2 separate regions of the Homo sapiens genome follow, and region 1 is linked to region 2. The links come from fine-mapping of genetic effects on gene expression. Tissue or cell type: whole blood. Region 2 holds a variant in brackets; the other region holds the start of a gene. All regions are shown on one strand. Distances are between the middles of the regions.

The links. PIP is the estimated chance that this variant, and not a neighbour inherited with it, causes the effect.
Region 1: CORO1A-AS1 starts here. The variant in region 2 is fine-mapped to the expression of CORO1A-AS1 in whole blood (TOPMed, PIP 0.95).

Annotation. Positions count from the first base shown.
Region 1 is chr16:30,181,128-30,190,506 of GRCh38, reverse strand. It overlaps CORO1A-AS1 (CORO1A antisense RNA 1), which reads left to right and starts at 5,719. Exons shown (of 2, transcript NR_186359.1): 1 at 5,719-6,003; 2 at 6,736-7,114. It overlaps CORO1A (coronin 1A), which reads right to left and starts at 6,905. Exons shown (of 11, transcript NM_007074.4): 1 at 6,782-6,905; 2 at 5,100-5,298; 3 at 3,787-3,909; 4 at 3,562-3,691; 5 at 3,284-3,468; 6 at 3,006-3,125; 7 at 2,678-2,782; 8 at 2,420-2,565; 9 at 2,258-2,315; 10 at 1,931-2,146; 11 at 1,431-1,647. The coding sequence starts at 5,297. The coding sequence ends at 1,543. RefSeq lists enhancers at 2,905-3,199, 2,839-3,378, 3,379-3,919, 3,943-4,092, 4,423-4,572 and 5 more and silencers at 5,003-5,102, 6,473-6,582, 6,613-7,072, 7,213-7,322.
Region 2 is chr16:30,149,136-30,159,530 of GRCh38, reverse strand. No RefSeq gene overlaps it. Among named protein-coding and RNA genes, the nearest start is that of CORO1A, 29 kb to the left of the region's middle. The variant C/T (reference allele first, on the strand shown) is at 5,652.

The DNA.
Region 1 (9,379 bases), 31 kb before region 2:
TTCCCCTGTTTCATATATTAAAATATATAATATATAAAACATATATATAAAATATATATAATTTATATTATAATATATAATATAATATAATATAATATAATATATATTATAATATATATTATATATTATACTATATTATTATATAGTATAATATATAACTTATTACTATATAATATAATATATAATTTATTATTATATAATATAATATATATTATATATTAAAATATATAATTAATATATATAATATTTATATATTAAAATATAATATATATAATATTTATATATTAAAATATATTATATATAATATATTTATATATTAAAATATATAATATATATAATATATTTATATATTAAAATATATATGATGTATTTATACATTTAAAAAATATATATATATATATATATATATATTTTTTTTTTTTTTTGAGACGAAGTCTCACTCCTGTCCCCCAGGCTGGAGTACAATGGCATGATCTCGGCTCACTGCAACCTTTGCCTCCCGGATTCAAGCAATTCTCTTGCCTCAGCCTCCTGAGTAGCTGAGATTACAGGCGCCTGCCACCATGCCCAGCTAATTTTTGTATTTTTAGTAGAGATGGGGTTTCACCATGTTGGCCAGGCTGGTCTCGAACTTCTGACCTCAGGTGATTCACCCACCTCGGCCTCCTAAAGTGCTGGGATTACAGGCGTGAGCTGCCACACCCGGCCTATTTATATTTTTTAGAGACAGTGTCTTGCTCTGTCACCCAGGCTGCAGTGCAGTGGTGCAATGGCTCATTGCAGCCTCGACCTCCTGGGCTCAAGGGATCCTCCTGCCTCAGCCTCCTGAGTAGCTGGAACTATAGGTGCCCACCACCATGCCTGGCTAATTTTTTATTTTATTTTTCGTAGAGACGGTATCTCGCCGTGTTGCTCAGGCAGGTCTCAAACTCCTGGGCTCAAATGATCCTGCCGCCTCAGCCTCCCACAGTGCTGGGATTATAGACGTGAGTCCCCATGCCCAGCCTCCCTCGTTATTTTTATCTTTGGACCTGCAGTTTAAAAGATGCCTACCCTGTAAGTGATGGTTGGTTCATTTCCTCACAAGCAACAGTGCCAGCAGAGTCACGTGCAACGTGATGTTTTGGTTGACTAGGAAAGGCAGATTTTTGGTAAATTTGGGAATTATTGAGGTTCTAAGCTAGGGCCTTAAATAGTTCAGCTGTGTCAGCTCTGAGAAGGAGCTCGGAAACGGAGAGCAGCCTCCTGGCCCACATCAGCATGGCTGGTTTCTACCCACGAAGGCCCTGTTCCTGTGATGTAGTAAGTCAGGGGGCATCCCACATCCCCTGCCATGGGTCAGTCCCCTCAGCGCGGTGGAGGGGAAGCTCTAGGGCTGGTTGGTTCAGCAAACTGCGTGTCTAGGGGACCAGTCATCAGAGTCTGGGAGGTACCAGAAAATAAAGCCATTTTATTATGATTTTTTTCTCTGCCATGTGGCTGGGAATGGGAGGTGAGTGGATGGGTGTGAATGGCTGACCCTGCTGGAGGCCCTGCGGGGCTCTACTTGGCCTGGACTGTCTCCTCCAGCCTGTCCAAGCGCTTCTGGAGCTCCTGCACCGTGGCCTGGAGCTTCCGCATCTCCTCCTCCAGCCGAGACACGGCATCCTGGGGACCCGGTGCTGCATTAGGCCCAGCTCCTCCCTGGCTCCCCTTACCCCAGCCTCTGCTGAGCCCCATCCCTAGAGCCCTGGCCTTGGGCCCTTTAGTCGCTCAGCTGGTTGCTGCCTGGAGACCTGCAGGCCTATCAATCTGAAACCTGTGTTCTGAGGCCTCAGGATTACCATTCCCGGACCCACAAAGATTCCCAATGTTGTGAGTTTGAGGTGCCCCAAACACCAGCCCCACCCCACCCTCCCAGTTTTATTCCCTGGCTTCCCAGCCCTCTCACCGAGCTGGGAGTGCCACTGGCCTCTGGTGCTGCCCTCCTGCGCCCGGTGTCCAGGCCCCGGTTGACCCTCAGCTCCCGGCTCTTTGGGGGTACGTAGCCATCCTTGAGGGAGATGAGGAGGGGCCCAGCATCCCGACCCCCCAGCCACTCCTCAGCCGTGAGGGCAGGGTCGGGCCCTGCGGTGGGTGGGTACAGGTCCTCCTGGAACAGGTCCGACTGTGGGCAAGGCCAGGGATAGTGAGGAAAGCGCTTATGCCAGGACACCCCCCACAAGACCGCAAAGTCAGTGCCCAGCCTGGAGCCCAGGGTGGGGCGGGGGAGCATCACCTTTCGAGGCACTGTCATGGCAATGGGCTCACACCTCCGCTCGTGCAGCTTGTAGAACCTGTGGGAAGGGGAAGGTGAGCGGGGCCCACAGTCTGGTTGGGTGGGCTTGGGACTGCCCACTGCCCAAGGAGCATGCTGCGGTCAGGGCCGGGGGTCAGTCACCTGGCGATCTCACACTTGTTCACCTCCAGGCCACGTTTGGGCATGTAGCCCATGCCCCGCTGGGACTCCTTGGAACTGAACATGGAGAGATAGTGCAGGAAAGGGGCCTCGGAAGTGATCTCAAAGTACCGGATTGAGCTGTCACCCTGTAGGTGGCAGGTGTGGAGGGAGGGTCAATACCAGCGGATGCCCACTGCCCTGGCCCTCTCCAGGCCCATCCTGCCCACCTCCCACCCCCACCCCGCCCGACGAGGCCACCTTGCCACAGAGGTAGACGATGTTGGTGTCAGGGTCAAAGAAGGGCAGCAGGACACCGCTGCTGGTGTCCAGCTCCTGCAGGGACAGCGGCTCCTCCAGGTGCTTCTGTAGACACAGGTGAGAGGTAACATCCCAGGCCCTGGGATGGTGGTCTTCCCTGGGCAGTGACCTGTGAGGGCCCTCCCGACCAACCAGTGGGAACAACCATCTCACGCCTGGGTAAACTGAGGCCCATGGCCATCCTGCCAGGTGAGTGGCAGAGCAGGGACGAAACCTCCAGTCTTGGTTCCCAGCCTGGGGGCCCTCGGCTTCCTGCCCCAGCACTCACTGTGTCCCACAGCGCCACCTGCCGCTCACTCATGCGGCTGAAGCCCGTGGTCAGGATCTTCCCCTCCGACACGAACACTGCACGCACGGGCCGGGTCCCCTCGTGGGGACGGTCCTTCTCCTGCAAGGAAAGGGAGGTGGTAGGTCAGGCACCCGTACATACCCTACGGGGCCAGTCCCAGGTGGAGGCGAGGGAGGGCAGCATCCAAGGGCCTGGCTGATGGTGGATAAGAAGGATAAAGGCTGTAGGGTCAAAGGTCAGGGTAGATGGCGACTCACAGCTACGACAGTGCCTTTGCGGGGCTCGATGATGCGCACGCGCTTGTCACGGCAGGAGGTACAAATGAGGCCTCCATCTCGGCTCCAGTCCACACTGTAGATCGTGTCTGGGTGCACCTCTGGGCCCAGTGTCAGCATGGCCGCCCCAGTGCCCACGTCCCACACCATGATCACGTTGTCACAACCTGCACGTTCCCCACAGTGTCAGAAGCCATGAGCCTCCTGCCCTCATCCACTGCAGGCCACGAGCCACCCCCAAGCCCCTCCTCCCGCAGCACCTGCACTGAGCAGCACGTTCTGGGCTGTGGTGTGCCAGGCCACAATGCCCACACGCTTGGTGTGGCCCTCCAGGGTGACGACGGGCTCCCGCAGGGGCAGCATCAGGCCCCCATCTGGGATCTCCCACACCTGCAGAGGAGGGGCCAGTGAGTCTTCAGGACTCCAAATGTCAGATCCCATCCTAGAGCCCCTCTCCCAGCCCCTGGGTCCCCACCACCACTCACCATGACTGTGCAGTCCTCGGAGCCACTGGCAATGACGTTGTCATTGTGCGGGCACCAGGCGATGTCTAGCACAGGGGCTGTGTGGCCACAGACCGTGGGCGCATTCTTGTCCACACGTCCAGTCTAAAGGCACAGCAGGGCCTTGGAGGTGCTTTTGCCTCCCAAACCCAATCCAACCTCCCCACACCTCCTTCAGAGAGGCCCAGAGAGGAAAGCTGTGGTGTCCCTGGGAGCTGGACCAGGGCCTGGGGTGGGGACGGGGGCGGGTTGTTCTTCTCTTGTTCCAGTCCCAAAATGGCCTGGGCAAACCCCAGGAGGGCTGGCCACGCATGGCAGAGGTTGGGGGCCGTGCAAGACCCTGGCAGAGTTCCCGCCGGTCTCTGTCTCAGTCTGTCTCTGCCCTTAGGGTTGGCACCCCCACCCCAGCTTCCCCGAGTGAGGCTTCCATGGGCACAACTGGCCCTGGAGCCAGGACAGGTGTATGGGGGCTGGGGGGGTGGAGGCAGCTCCCCAGAGAGCGAGTGTGAGTGGTGGGGCTGCAGGGGTGGGTCCTCCCAAAAGGAGAGGGGCCAGGGAGCCTGTCCCAACTGGCCCCAGGCAGGAGCAGAGGTTTGGAAATGGCTTCTTCCGGGGACAGCTGCTTCAGCAGGGCTTCCTGTGTGACAGCCATGTGGGGCGCGGGCCCAGCTCTCACCCCGACAACCACTTCCTCTTCTCTTTGCTTCCATCAGCCCTTTTAAGGTAACAACTTGGGGCCCATCTCCCCTTCCTGTCTTACCCCCCAAAGAGCACAGGAGTGTGCTGGGGGTGCGGGGCAGCAGCCAGCCAGCGGAGGGGGCAGCAGGCTCCAGGGGAGGGCAGGGCTGCGGGTGGGGGAGAGCACCTCTTGCATCATCCCTGCCTGCGAGCTGGGGGACAGAGTTGCTAGGTCCTCAGACAGGCCCAGAGCCAGAGTCCCTCCCAACCCTGAGAACGCTGCCAGGGCCCCCAGACCCCATCCCAACCCCCTCTGTGTTTCCATGGGGAGAAAGCCCCAGGCTGAGGCTCAGGAGGGCTGATCATGGGTCTGCAGGACTGTCTGTAGTCCTGGTCACTGGTGTGACCCATCTTGTGTTGGCTCCTTCTGAGCGTCAGTTTCCACACAGCCACAGCACAGAGGAGCTGGAGGAAGTGTAAGGCTCATGGGGCCCAGCTCAGTTTTCCAGATGGCAACACAGGCCCTGGAAGGCCTGGTGACCGTCACCTAATCAGGACCTGCACAGAGCCATGGGTCCGGTGGAGGAGCTGCTCCCCCCAGGGCCCCAGGGGCTCACCTTGCCCAGGGGCAGCACCAGGAAGGCCCCTCCCCCGCTGGCCTCACAGATCAGGGCCACAAACTTAGGGTTGACAGCACAGAAGCCACTGTCCCAGGTGGTCTGTGAGACGCGCACATCTTCATAGCACTGGTCGGCCTTGGCCGGCTGTCCAAACACGTGGCGGAACTTGCTGGAGCGGACCACCTGCCGGCTCATTCTGGGGGCACACAGCATAAGAGCATTTCTCCCTTCAGGTCAACTCTGATCTTCCAGTGGTCCCCACCTCCCCCAGGACACCCCTCAGTCTGGCTTTTAAGGTCCCAGCATCATCTCCAGGGGCTCCCTATTCTTCCCTCTGTGGCTGATGCCTGCTTGCCTTCCCCAGCCTCTCCTTCCCTCTAACCTGCAAGCCCCCTTCTCCCTGGCCCCAGGCCACTCTGAGCCACCCTCTCAATCTGTACCCTCAGCCTCTGCAACAGAGCCTGGCGTGGTGTTGCCCCACTGCATGTTTGTTGACTGACTGGCTGATGGATGCAGAGCCCGTCCTTCCTAATGGTTCAGACTCAGGCGTCATCAGCCCAGATGGCTCCGAGGGTGGGTTCTCTCTTAGTTACCGTGTCCAGAGCCCACCTCCCTCACACCCACACAGCGCTTCCTAAAGGCAGGGACAGGAGCTGGCCTCCCTCGCCTGCTGGCATGGGGCTGGACACAGGAGGAAGTGGCGTGGGGGCTGCCTGAGGGGAGTGAGGCGGCAGGATAGCTTCCCCAGCAGGTCTCTGGCTCAGGTCCAGGTATCTCCTCCTCCCCATACCTCTGCCTCTCGCCTCCGCTCAGAAAAGCAGGTGCCCTTAAGAGCCATCTCCACCCCCATGTAAACTGCACACAGGAAGGGAGAGGCCACTCCGACTGCTCTGAGGTCCAGGTAGGATGGTTTCCCCCAGTGTCTGGGTGGGGAGCAAGGAACTCCAGGGGCGACCTTGTGCCACCGCATCACCTTCCTGCTCAGGGAAGGGGCCTGTGCTGCCGCTTGGAGGGTGCCATGCCCAGAGCCTCTGCCCCTAGCCTCAGCCTCGCCTACTCACTGGGGGCTCCAGCACCCCCGGCCACCCCAGGACTCCCGAAGAGGCTGCTAGGTCGGCCTGCCCAAAGAGCGGTGAGGAGCGTATGTGAAGAGCCCCAGTCTTGAGGAGCAGCCTGTATCTGGAGAGAGGGGAGCCCCGGACCAGAGGTGGGGGACAGGAAGCCATCGCCCCACCCTGCCTCCTCCCCCACCACAGGTACCAGGCCCGGAAACCACGGAAAGGGGAACTTGGTCTTTTCTTGTTTTGCTCTCAACCCCTTCCTGTCTCCAAGCCCAGGGCAGCTGCCCCGCTCACCCCACCCTGCCCTCGTCCCCACCCTCCCCGAGACTCAATTCCGTGGGGAGTCGGGCCCTCGACACTGTGCTGACCCCCGGCCACCCACCTCCATCTTGGCCGCGGTGGTCCCTAGCCCTCGCCTCCGCAGAGCGCTCTGGGGCCCCGGCGGCCCCCACTCCAAGCAGCGTCCCCCCACGGGCTGCTGCGCCCGCTACCTGGCCCCGGCGCTGGCTGGGTCGCGGTGACAGCCGCGCGCCCCCGCAGCCCGCGGCTCCCACGCGCGCGCCGCCCCACAGGTGGCCCTCGCCCCGGCCCACCCGCGCCTCCCAGGCCCAGCCTCACCTGCTGCCGAGAGAGGACAGTGATCCCCCAAAAGCCGGAGGTGGAGGAGGAGGAGGAAGAGGAGGAAGGAGCTGGAGGAGCCGGGGACTCGCCCGCTGAAGATGCTCTTGTCAAGACAATGAATGAGAAGCAGCCGTGCGCCCGCCTCCGGGGTGGCCGCGCCCCTTGGGGCGGAGCTCTTCCAGGCCCGCCCTGCGCTCCCGGGCTCCCGCTGCGGCCGCCTCTCTCCCCGGCCCCTGCCCGTGCACCACGTTGGTCCCCAACCATAGCGCAGGCTGCCATCCCGGCTCCGGGAAGCGAATCTAAACTTCTTTTTAAAATGTCAAAACGCAAGAGCACCCCATTGCTTCTTTCCTCCCTGCGTCCGCCCCCAGCCTCCTCGCCAGCCTTTCCCTGGCAGGCACGAAAGCGCCCCAGGCCCGCCCGCCAGGCCTCGGTGCCCGCCCCGGCCCGGCTGCGCCGCCCCTTCCTCCCGGCCCCGCAGACGCGAGCGCAGGGGGCGCGGGGGGCGCGGGGGGCGCGAGGGGCGCGGGGGGCGCGGGCGAGGAGGAGCCCCGAGCGCGCTCCTGGACCCCCGGGACCTGGCTCTTGCCTGGCTCTGAGATCTAAGCATGGGTGGCCCCGGGAGTCGCTTCTCCTCCCTGGATCTCCTGGCTTCATCGGGAACACCCCTGCCCTCCTGCTGAAATAATCCGGCATCACGGGCACCTACTTCGTGCCAGGGGCTACAGGGTCGAGCAAGGCAGGCAAGCCAGGCAGGTTTCCGCCCCTGAAGAGCCCAGCCTGGGGGAAGGAGGAGGAGCCCACGGCCGCTCCAAGCCCTGGCTTTGGCGAAGGCTCGAGGGCAAGGAGGAATAGTTCCCACCCTTGGATTCAGAGAGGCTTCTGGAGGCAGCAACAGCGGGCAGGAAAGGCCTGCTCTAGAGTCAGACTATGTCATGAGTGCGACCGCAGCCTGTCACCTGCTGAGTGAGGTGTGGCCGCTACTTAGCCTTTCTCAGCCTCGGTTTCTCCCTCTGTAACAGTCATACCTGCCACGTAAGAGGTATGGGGATGATTACCTAAAATAACCCAAGGAAGTCAGTAAGGACCTCATCTAGAAAGTGGCGGGTGCTTAATAAACGTTAGCTCTCAGCCATGCGTAGTGACTCACGCCTGTAATCCCAGCACTTTGGGAGGCCAAGGCTGGCGGATCACCTGAGGTCAGGAGTTCGAGACCAGCCTGGCCAACATGGTAAAACCGCATCTCTACTAAAAATACAAAAATTAGCGTGGTGTAGTGATGCACCCCTGTAATCCCAGCTACTGAGGAGGCTAAGGCATGAGAATAGCTTGAACCCTGGAGGCAGAGGCTGCAGTGAGCCAAGATTGAGCCACTGTTATCACCCAGTCTTCTCTGGGTGAAAGAGCAAGACCGTCTCATTTTAAAAAAAGTTAGCTCTCATCATTCTTGTTTAAAAAGTATCTGGGCTGGGCCTGAAAGGATTAGGAAGAGCCAACAGGCAAGGCTAGAGGGGTGACCTGTAGGCTGAGGGACAGCCCTGTCGTGTGGAGAAGTTCAAGGAACAGCAAGGGACGGGTTCAAGTCCCACCTCTGCCACTGACTGGCTGTGCGATCTTGGCCAAGAGGGCTAATCTCTCTGAACCTCATTTTGTCATTGGTAAATGGGGAATTAATAAGATTTGAACTGCCCACCTCACAAAGTTATGAGGCTCTGGCCGGGCGCAGTGCCTCACGCCTGTAATCCCAGCACTTTGGGAGGCCAAGGCGGGCAGATCACGAGGTCAGGAGATGGAGACCATCCTGGCTAACATGGTGAAACCCCCTCTCTACTAAAAATACAAAAAATTAGCCAGGCATGGTGGCAGGCGCCTGTAGTCCCAGCTACTTGGGAGGCTGAGGCAGGAGAATGGTGTGAACCCAGGAGGCGGAGGTTGCAGTGAGCCGAGATCGTGGCACTACACTCCAGCCTGGGTGACAGAGCGAGACTCCATCTCAAAAAAAAAAAAAAAAAAAAATTACCCGGGCATGGTGGTGCATGCTTGTAATCCCAACTACTCTGGAGGCTGAGGCAGGAGAATTGCTTGAACCTGGGAGGCGGAGGTTGCAGTGAGCTGAGATGGCACTATTGCACTCCAGCCTGGGCAACAAGAGTGAAACTCCGTCTCAAAAAAAAAAAAATTAGCTGGGCATGGTGGTGTGCGCCTGTAGTCCCAGCTACTCGGGAGGCTGAGGCAGAAGAATCGCCTGAACCCAGGAGGCAGAGGTTGCAGTGAGCCAAGACTGTGCCATTGCACTCCAGCCTGGGCAACAGAGTAAGACTCCATCTCAACAACAACAAAAAAGTTACTAGGCTCAAATGAGACAATAAATCTGTAAATCTTTTATAGATTATTCAATTGTAAAAACCTTAGGGCTGTACTGTACTCAAAGGCCTGCGACTGGACGGGACTAGACCGAGATAAGGTGGGTACTCTGATGTGCCGTCTCCCACAGAAGTGACAGGAATAATAACTGGCTTTTATTGAGTGCCTACTATGTGCTGGGCACTGTTCTAGACACTATACTATGTTCATGTAATCCTCATAGCACCCCTG
Region 2 (10,395 bases):
CCAGGTTCACGTCATTCTCCTGCCTCAGCCTCCCAAGTAGCTGGTACTACAGGTGCCTGCCACCAGGCCCGGCTAATTTTTTGTATTTTTAGTAGAGACGGGGTTTCATCGTGTTAGCCAGGATGATCTCAATCTCCTGACCTCGTGATCCACCTGCCTTGTCCTCCCAAAGTGCTGGGATTAGAGGCGTGAGCCACTGTGCCCGGCCTTTTTTTTTTTTTAAGATGGAGTCTTGCTCTGTCGCCCAGGCTGGAGTGCAGTGGTGTAATCTCAGCTCACAGCAACCTCCGCCTCCTGGGTTCAAGCGATTCTCCTGCCTCAGCCTTCCAAAAAGCTGGGACTACAGGCGCCCACCACCACACCCAGCACAGACGGGGTGGCGGCCGGGCAGAAGCGCTCCTCACTTCCCAGACGGGGTGGCGGCCGGGCAGAGGCTGTAATCTTAGCACTTTAGGAGGCCAAGGCAGGCGGCTGGGAGGTGGAGGTTTTAGCGAGCCGAGATCACGCCACTGCACTCCAGCCTGGGCAACATTGAGCATTGAGTGAGCGAGACTCCGTCTGCAATCCCAGCACCTCAGGAGGCTGAGACGGGCAGATCACTCAAGGTCAGGAGCTGGAGACCAGCCCGGCCAACACGGCGAAACCCCGTCTCCACCAAAAATACAAAAACCAGTCAGGCGTGGCGGCGCATGCCTGCAATCCCAGGCACTCGGCAGGCCGAGGCAGGAGAATCACAGGAGCCTGAGGCAGGGAGGTTGCAGCGAGCCGAGATCACGGCAGTATAGTCCAGCCTCGGCAACAGAGGGAGACTGTTGAAAGAAAGAAAGAGAGAGAGAGAGAGAAAGAAAGGCGGGCAGGCAGGCGTTTTTTCACTTTCTTGACGGTGTTCTTTGAATCACAGAAGTTTCACGTTTTTGTTTCAAATTCTTTTTTTTTTTTTTTTTTTTGAGACAGAGTCTCACTCTGTCCCCCAGTCTGGAATGCAGTGGCACGATCTCGGCTCACTGCAAGCTCCGCCTCCTGGGTTCACACCATTCTCCTGCCTCAGCCTCCTGAGTAGCTGGGACTACAGGCACCAGCCACCACACCCCGCTAATTTTTATTTTTATTTATTTTTATTTTATTTTATTTTATTTTTGTATTTTTAGTAGAGACAGGGTTTTGCCGTGTTAGTCAGGATGGTCTGGATCTCCTGACCTCGTGATCCACCTGCCTTGGCCTCCCAAAGTGCTGGGATTACAGGCGTGAGCCACTGCGCCCGACCAAAATTCTTTTACACTTATTATGATTGTTGAGTATTTTCTATATTTTATTTTAAATCCTGGGATACACGTGCAGGATGTACAGGTTTGTTACATAGGTAAACGTGTGCCATGGTGCTTTGCTGCACCTATCAACCCATCACTTATGTATTAAGCCCTGAATACATTAGCTTTATCCTAATGCTCTTGCTCCCCCGACCCCCCGACAGGCCCCAGTGTATGTTATAAGTTTCACATTTTGATGAAGCCCAATGTATCTGTTTTCATTGTTGTTGCTTTCCTTTTTGTTGACATGTCTAAGAAGACACTGCCGGGATGGGTGCGGTGGCTCATGCCTGTAATCCCAGCACTTTGGGAGGCCGAGGCACCCGGATCACAACGTCAGGAGATGGAGAACATCCTGGCTAACATGGTGAAACCCCGTTTCTACTAAATACACAAAAAATTAGCCGGGTGTGGTGGTGGGCGCCTGTAGTCCCAGCTACTCGGGAGGCTGAGGCAGGAGAATGGTGTGAACCTGGGAGGCCGAGCTTGCAGTGAACCGAGATTGTGCTGCTGCACTCCAGCCTGGGCAACAGAGCAAGACTCCGTCTCAAAAAAAAAAAAAAAAGACACTGCCAAATTTGAAGCTACAAAGACTTGTCCCTATGTTTTCTTCTAAGAGTTTTATAGTTTTAGCTTTTACATTTGGTTTTAAAACAACAACAACCCTATTTTGAGTTAATTTTTGTATATGGTATGAGGCAGGGGCTCCACATTCCTTATTTATTTATTATTTTTTGAAACAGGATCTTACTCTGCTGCCCAGGCTGGAGTGCAGTGGTGTGATCACAACTCACTGCAGCCTTGAACTCTTGGGCTCAGGTGATCCTCCCACCTCAGTCTCCTAAGTAGTTGGGACTACAGGCACACACCACCATGCCTTGCTTATCTTTTTGTATTTTTTGTGGGACAGGAGTTTCACTATGTTGTTCAGGCTAGTCTCAAACTCCTGGGGTCAAGTGATCCACCCACCTCGGGCTCCCAAAGTGCTGGGATTACAGGCATGAGCAACCATGCCCAGTCAAGTTCATTATTTTGTATGTGTATGTTTTGTACATGTTCACTGTTACATAGCACTGTTTATTTAAAGACTATTCTTTCCCTCATTGAATTGTCTTGGCACCCTTATTTAAAATAAATTGACCACAGACATATAGGTTTATTTCTGGACTCTAGATTTTTTTTTTTTTGAGGCAGAGTCTGTCACTCAGGGTTCAAGTGATTCTCCTGCCTCAGCCTCCCATGTAGCTGGGACTACAGGTGCCCACCTCCACACCTGGCTAATTTTTGTATTTTTAGTAGAGATGGGGTTTCACCATGTTGGCCAGGCTGGTCTCGAACTCCTGACCTCAAGTGATCCACCCACCTCAGCCTCCCAAAGTGCTGGGATTATAGCTGTGAGCCACCACATCCAGCCATGGACTCTATAGATCATTGATCTATGGGTCTAGCCCTATGACAGTATCACAGTGTCTTGATTACTGTAGCTTTGTAGTAAGTTTTGAAATTGGGAAGTGTGAGCCTTCAACTTGTTTCTTTTTCAAGATTGTTTTGGCTATTCTGAGTCCCCTGAGTTTCCATATGAATTTTAGGACCCATTTGTCAATTTCTACAAGGAAGTCACTGGAATTCCAATAGGGATTGGGTAGATTAATTTAACAATATTAAATCTTCTGATCCATGAATGTGGGGTATCTTTCCATTTACTTAGAAATCAAATCTTCTTTGATTTGTTTCAACAATTATTTCAAGGTTTCAGAGCATACATTTTGTACTCCTTTTGTTAAGTTTATTCTTAAGTATTTTATTTTGGGGGTGCTATTGTAAATGGAATTGTTTTCTTAATTTCGTTTTCAGAAATTGTTCATTGCATTTTTTTTTTTTTTTTTGAGACGGGGTCTCGCTCTGTCACCAGGCTGGAGTGCAGTGGCACGATCTCAGCTCATTGCAACCTCCAACTCCCTGGTTCAAGCGATTCTCCTGCCTCAGCCTCCTGAGTAGCTGGGATTACAGGCATGCGCCACCACACCCAGCTAATTTTTTTGTATTTTTAGTAGAGACGGGGTTTCACCATGTTGGCCAGGATGGTCTCTATCTCCTGACCTCGTGATCCACCCACCTCAGCCTCCCAAAGTTCTGGGATTACAGGCATGAGCCACCACACCCGGCTTTTTTTTTTTTTTTTTTTTTTGAGATGAAATGTCACTCTTGTCGCCCAGGCTGGAGTGCAATGGTGCATTCTCGGCTCACCACAACCTCCACCTCTCAGATTCAAGCTATTCTCCTGCCTCAGCCTCTCTAGTAGTTGGGATTGCAGGTGCCGACCACCATGCCTGGCTAATTTTTTTGTTTGTTTGTTTTTGTATTATTAGTAGAGATGGGATTTCATCATGTTGGCCAGGCTGGTCTCGAACTCCTGACCTCAAGTGATCTGCCCGCCTTGGCCTCCCAAAGTGCTGGGATTACAGCTGTGAGCAAACGTGCCTGACCTGTCCATTGCAATTATATGGAAATATAATTGATTTTTTTTTTGCATATTGACCTATATCTTGCAACATTACTGTTTTCATTAATTAGTTTGTTTTTTGTTTTTTGTTTTTCAGATGGAGTCTCGCTCTGTCACACAGGCTGGAGTGAAGTGGCATGATGTCGGCTCACTGCAACCTCCGCACCCCATGTTCAAGCAATTCTCCTGCCTCAGCCTCCTCAGTAGCTGGGATTATAGGTGCGTGCCACCACGCCTAGCTCATTTTTGTATTTTTTTAGTAGAGATGGAGTTTCACCATGTTGGCCAAGCTGGCCTCCATCTCCTGACCTCAGGTGACCCACCCACCTTGGCCTCTCAAAGTGCTAGGATTACAGGCATGAGCCACCTCACCTGACCTTGGCCTTTTTTTTTTTTTTTTTTTAGACAGTGTCTATCTCTATTGCCCAGGCAGGAGTACAGTGGTGCGATCTTGGCTTACTGCAGCCTCAACCTCCCAGGCTCAAGTAATTCTCTCTCTTCAGCCTCCCAAATAGCTGAGACCACATGCATGCACCACCATGCCCAGCTGATTTTGTTTATTTTTGTCGAGACGGGGGTTTCACGGTGTTGCCCAGGATGGTCTCGTACTCCTGGGCTCAAGAGATCCTTCCATCTCAGCCTCCCAAAGTGCTGGGATTACAGGTGTGAGCCACTGTGCCTGGCCAGTTTTATTTTCTTATTGTGATAAAACATATAACATGAGATGTACCCTCCTAGCAAGTTTTTGTTGTTGATTTTTGTTTGTTTGTTTGCTTTTGATGGAGTCTTACTCTGTCGCCCAGGCTAGGGGGCAGTGGCACGATCTTGGCTCACTGTGGCCTCTGCCTCCCGGGTTCCGGCAATTCTCCTGCCTCAGCCTCCATGCCACGCAACCATCCCCAGCTAATTTTTATTTATTTATTTTTTAGTAGAGACGGGGTTTTGCCATGTTGGCCAGGATGGTCTCGATCTCCTGACCTCGTGATCCGCCCGCCTCGGCCTCCTAACGTGCTGGGATTACAGGCATGAGCTACCACACCTGGACCCGAGCAAGTTTTAAGTGTACAGTACTTTAAACTACGATCACAACGTAGTGCAGCAGATTCTAAAATTTTTCATTTTGCATGACTGAAACTCGATACCCAATAAACAGCAACTCCTCCTCTCCCCCTCCCCTCAGCTGCTGAACATCACCTTTCTAATTTTTGTTTTGGTGAGTTTGACTACTTTAGATACCTCGTATGAGTGGAATCATGCAGTTTTTGTCCTTCTATAACTGGTTTATTTCACTTAGTATAATGTCTTTGTCTTAAGCCATTCTTGCTTTGCTATAAAGAAATGCCGGAGACTGGGTAATTTACGGTGAAAAGAGGTTTAATTGGCTCATGGTTCTGCAGGCTGTACAGGAAGCATGGTGCTGGCATCTGCTTGGCTTCTGGGGAGGCCCCAGGAAACTTAAAATCATGGCAGAAGGCGAATGGGGAGCAGGCATGTCATGGCGAAAACAGGAGCAAGACAGCGAGAGGGTGAGGAGGGGTGCCACTAACTTTTAAAGAGTCAGATCTCGTGTGAACTCAGAGTAAGGGCTCACTTATTGCTAAGGAGATGGCGCAAGCCATTTATGAGGGATCTGCCCCCGTGATCCAAACACTTCCCCACAGGCCCCACCTCCAACATTGGGGATTGCATTTCTACAAGAGATTTGGGCAGAGACACACATCGAAACTGTATCAGTCTTCAGGGTTCATCTGTGTTGTAGCATATGACAAGATTTCCTCCTTTTTACAGCTGAATAATATTCCATTGTATGTCTGTGCCACATTTTCTTTCTTTCTTTCTTT[C/T]TTTTTTTTTGAGATGGAATCTTGCTCCATCACCCAGGCTGGAGCGCAGTGGCGCAATCTCAGCTCACTGCAAGCTCCACCTCCCGGGTTCACGCCATTCTCCTGCCTCAGCCTCCTGAGTAGCTGGGACTACAGGCGCCCGCCACCACACCTGGCTAATTTTTTGTATTTTTAGTAGAGATGGGGTTTCACCGTGTTAGCCAGGATGGTCTCAATCTCCTGACCTCGTGATCCGCCCACCTTGGCCTCACATTTTCTTTATCCATTCATCTGTTAGTGGACATTTAGGTTGTGTACACCTCTTGATTATTGTAAATAATACTGAAATGAACATGGGAATGCAGATATCTCTTTGAGATTCTGATTTCAATTCTTTTGGATAAATACCCAGAAGTGGCCAGGCGCAGTGGCTCACACCTGTAATTCCAGCACTTTGGGAGGCCGAGGTGGGTGGATCACTTGAGGTCAGGAGTTCAAGACCAGCCTGGCTGACATGGTGAAACCCTGTCTCTACTGAAAACACAAAAATTAGGCCGGGCACGTGGCTCATGCCTGTAATCCCAGCACTTTGGGAGGCTGAGGTGTGTGGATCACTTGAGGTCAGGAGTTCAAGACCAGCCTGGCTGACATGGTGAAACCCTGTCTCTACTGAAAACACAAAAATTAGGCCGGGCACATGGCTCATGCCTGTAATCCCAGCACTTTGGGAGGCTGAGGTGGGTGGATGACCTGAGGTCAGGAGTTTGAGACCAGCTTGGCCAACATGGTGAAACCCCGTCTCTACTAAAAATATAAAAATTAGTCTGCATGGTGGCAGATGCCTGTAATCCCAGCTACTCAGGAGGCTGAGGCAGGAGAATCACTTGAACCCGGAAGATGGAGGTTGTAATGAGCCAAGATCACACCACTGCACTCCAGCCTGGGCGACAGAGTGAGACTCTGTCTCAAAAAACATACACAGACACACACACACACACACACACACACACAAATTAGCTGGACGTGATAGCACACCCCTGTAGTCCCAGCTGCTTGAGAGACCAAGGCACAAGAATCGCATGAACCCAGGAGGCGGAGGTTCCTGTGAGCCAAGATCGCACCATTGTACTCCATTCTGGGTGACAAGAGCGAAGCTCCGTCTCAAAAATAAATAAATAAATAAATAAATAAATAAATAAATAAATACCCAAAAGTGGGACTGCTGGATCATATGGTAGTTCTATTTTTAATATTTTGAGGAACTTTCACACAGTTTTCCACATTAGCTGTACCATTTTACATTCCCACCAACAGTGCACGGGGTTTCCAATTCGCTCTCATTCTTGCCACACGTATTTTCTGGTTTTGGTGTTTTTTGTTTTTGTTTTCTATAGTGGCCATCGTAACAGGTATGAGGCAGCACCTCATTGTGATTTGGTGATATATATATATATACATCTAGATTTTGTCCACAGTTCCTGGTTCACAGCTCCCATAGCTCTTGCTAGAATGCTGGAGTGCTGCAATCCTCTGAAGCAGGCCTCATTGAAAAAAGAATCTCTTGGCTGGGTGTGGTGGCTCATGCCTGTAATCCCAGCTCTTTGGGAGGCCAAGGTGGGTGAATCACGAGGTCGGGAGTTCAAGACCAGCCTGGCCAACATGGTGAAACCCCGTCTTTACTACAAATACAAAAATTAGCCAGGTGTGGTGGCGGGCGCCTGTAGTCCCAGTTAGGAGGCTGAAGCAGGAGAATCGCTTGAACCTGGGAGGCGGAGGTTAGTGTGAGCGGAGATCACTGCACTCTAGCCTGAGCAACAGAGCAAGAATCCGTCTCAAAAAAAAAAAAAAAAACTCTCTCTCTCTGTTTGACCTTCTCCTGCTCTCCTTTCACCTGCTTCTTTTTCTCACCAAGGCAGGAATCTTCCCCTACCTTTCTGTATTGAAATTGGCCATAAAGAAACTCTCTGACATACCTTGTCTGAGTGTAGTTGATGACACCTTCATTTCGGTAGGACTCCTGCCCATACCCTGGAGGAAGGAAAGCTGCACAGAGAGGCCAAGGAGTTGCTGAACACAAGGGCCTTGCTGGGGTTCCCCATTCAGGGTATTAGTATTAGATCGTGCCCTTTTTGACCAATCACCTTTCTACACATTTGTCCATGCTTGAGTCATGCCTATCCAATTAAGTCTCCATAAAAGGCCAAAAGGACAGGGCTTAGGGAGCTTCCGGATAGCTGACCATGTGGAGGTCATACAGGAGTTAAGAAGAAATTACTTAGGCAGATAGTAAGGGTACAGAAGTCTTTGGTAAGGTTCTCCTTTTAATGAAAAGCAGCCCCAAATTATTTTCCTTTCTAACGAAGAGTAGCCTGTAAAATCGAGCTGCAGACATAGATGTTGGCAGTTGTGCCAATCATGTTCAAGATGGTGGCTCCATCTTCCCTTCTCTTTGTCAGCCACGTGTACAGTAAAGAGCAGACAAGATGGCGAAGGCCAAGGGGAAAGTTCATTTGCATAATATGATTAGGGTGAGGCAGCCAGCCTTCCCTGCATGCTATGTAATATCACTCTTGATCAAACCAATCTGTGAGTCCTATGTAAATCAGGCACCACATCCTCAAATCTGACTATAAAATATGGCACATCCCCCACCTGCTGGTCTTTTCCTCTCAGAAGTCCCCACTCTCACTAAAGAGAGAGCTGTGCCAGACATGGTGGCTCATGCCTGTAACCCCAGCACTTTGGAAGGCCGAGGCGGACGGATCACGAGGTCAGGAGATCGAAACCATCTCTGGCTAACACAGTGAAACCCCATCTCTACTAAAAATACAAAAAATTAGCTGGGCGTTGTGGCATGCACCTGTAGTCCCAGCTACTCAGGAGGCTGAGGCAGGAGAACGGCATGAACCTGGGAGGCGGAGCTTGCAGTGAGCTGAGATCTCTGCCACTGCACTCCAGCATGGGTGGCAGAGGAGACTCTGTCTCAAAAAAAAAAAAAAAAAAAAAAAAAAAAGAGGGAATCATGGAAACCCCAATTTGAAGCCAGTCGGTCAGAAGTTCTGGTGTGTGTAGGGGTGCAGTCTTGTGGGATTGAACCCTCAACTTGTGGGATCTGATGCTATCTTCAGGTAGATAGTGTTGGAATTGAATTGGAGGACACTCAATTCAGAATTGTCCATTGGAGAATTGGTTGTTTGCTTGGTGTTGGCAGGAGTTCCCCCCAACATTTGGTCACAGAAGACTTCTTTTTTTTTTCTTTTTTCTTTTCCTTTTCTTTTCTTTTTTTTTTGAGACCAAGTCTCACTCTGTTGCCCAGGCTGGAGTTCAGTGGTGTGATCTCTGCTCACTGCAACCTCTGCTTCCCTGGTTCAAGCATTTCTCCTGCCTCAGCCTCCCCAGTAGCTGGGATTACAGGTGCCTGCCACCACACCTGGCTATTCTTTTTGTGTTTTTAGTAGAGATAGGTTTTCACCACGTTGGTCAGGCTGTTCTTGAACTCCTGACCTCGTGATCCACCCACCTTGGCCTCCCAAAGTGCTGGGATTACAGATGTGAGCCACCGCACCCAGCCCGGTCACAGAAGACTTCTGTAGTGATTGTTACTGTGGTGTGAGAGCCAAGAAAAAAAACAGTTTGTGTTTTTTCTTCAGAGGTTTTGATTTGCATTTCCCTGGCGATTAAAGTTCTGATTTTTTAGTGGGTTCCTTAGGATTTACAGGATCTTATATATTTTCTTTTTTTGTTTTTGTTTTGTTTTGTTTGAGACAGAGTCTGACTCTGTCACCCAGGCTGGAGTGCAGTGGCACGATCTCAGCTCACTGCAAACTCTGCCTACCAGCTTCAAGGGATTCTCCTGCCTCAGACTCTGAGTAGCTGGGATTACAGGTGTGCACCACCATGCCCAGCTAATTTTTTGTATTTTTAGTAGAGACGGAGTTTCACCATGTTTGCCAGGCTGGTCTCAAACTGCTGATCTCAAATGATCTGCCCACTTTGGCCTCCCAAATGCTGGCATTACAGGCATAAGCCACCACGCCCGGCCTTGGATCTTGTATATTTTCTATATACAAGATCATGTAATCTATAGATAGTTTCACTTCTTTCTTTCCAATCTAGATGCCTTTTATTTCACTTTCTTGCTTAATTTTCCTGGCTAGAATCTCCAGTACAATACAGAATAAAAGTGGTAAGAGCGGACTTCCTTGTCTTATTTTGATCTGTCAGGAACTTTCACCATTAAGTATGATGTCAGCTGTGGGTTTTTCACAGATGCTCTTTATCAGGTAGAGGAAGTTGTCTTTTACTTGTAGTTTGTTGCATGGTTTTTTTCTTACGAAAGAATGTTGAATTTTGTCAAAGTTTTTTTCTGCATTTATTGAGATGATTAATTGCTTTTTTCCATTTATTCTAAAATTATGGTGTATTAAGTTAATGTATTTTCAGATATTGAACCAGCCTTGCATTCCTGGGATCATTCGCACTTGATCATGGTGTACTGTCCTTTTGATGTGGTGCTGGATTCTGTCTGCTGGTATTTGAAGATTTTTGCCTCTATATTAATAAGAAATACTGATCTGTAGTTTCCTTTCTTATGTCTGGCTTTGGCATCAGGGTAATACTGGCCTCATAAAAAGAGTTGGGAAATGTTGCCTCTTCTTCTATTTTTTGAAAGAGTTTATGAAAAACTGGTATTAATTTTTCTCTAAATGTTTAGTTAAATACAGCAGTGAAGCCCTGTGGGCATGAGCCTTTGTGGAAGTTTTTG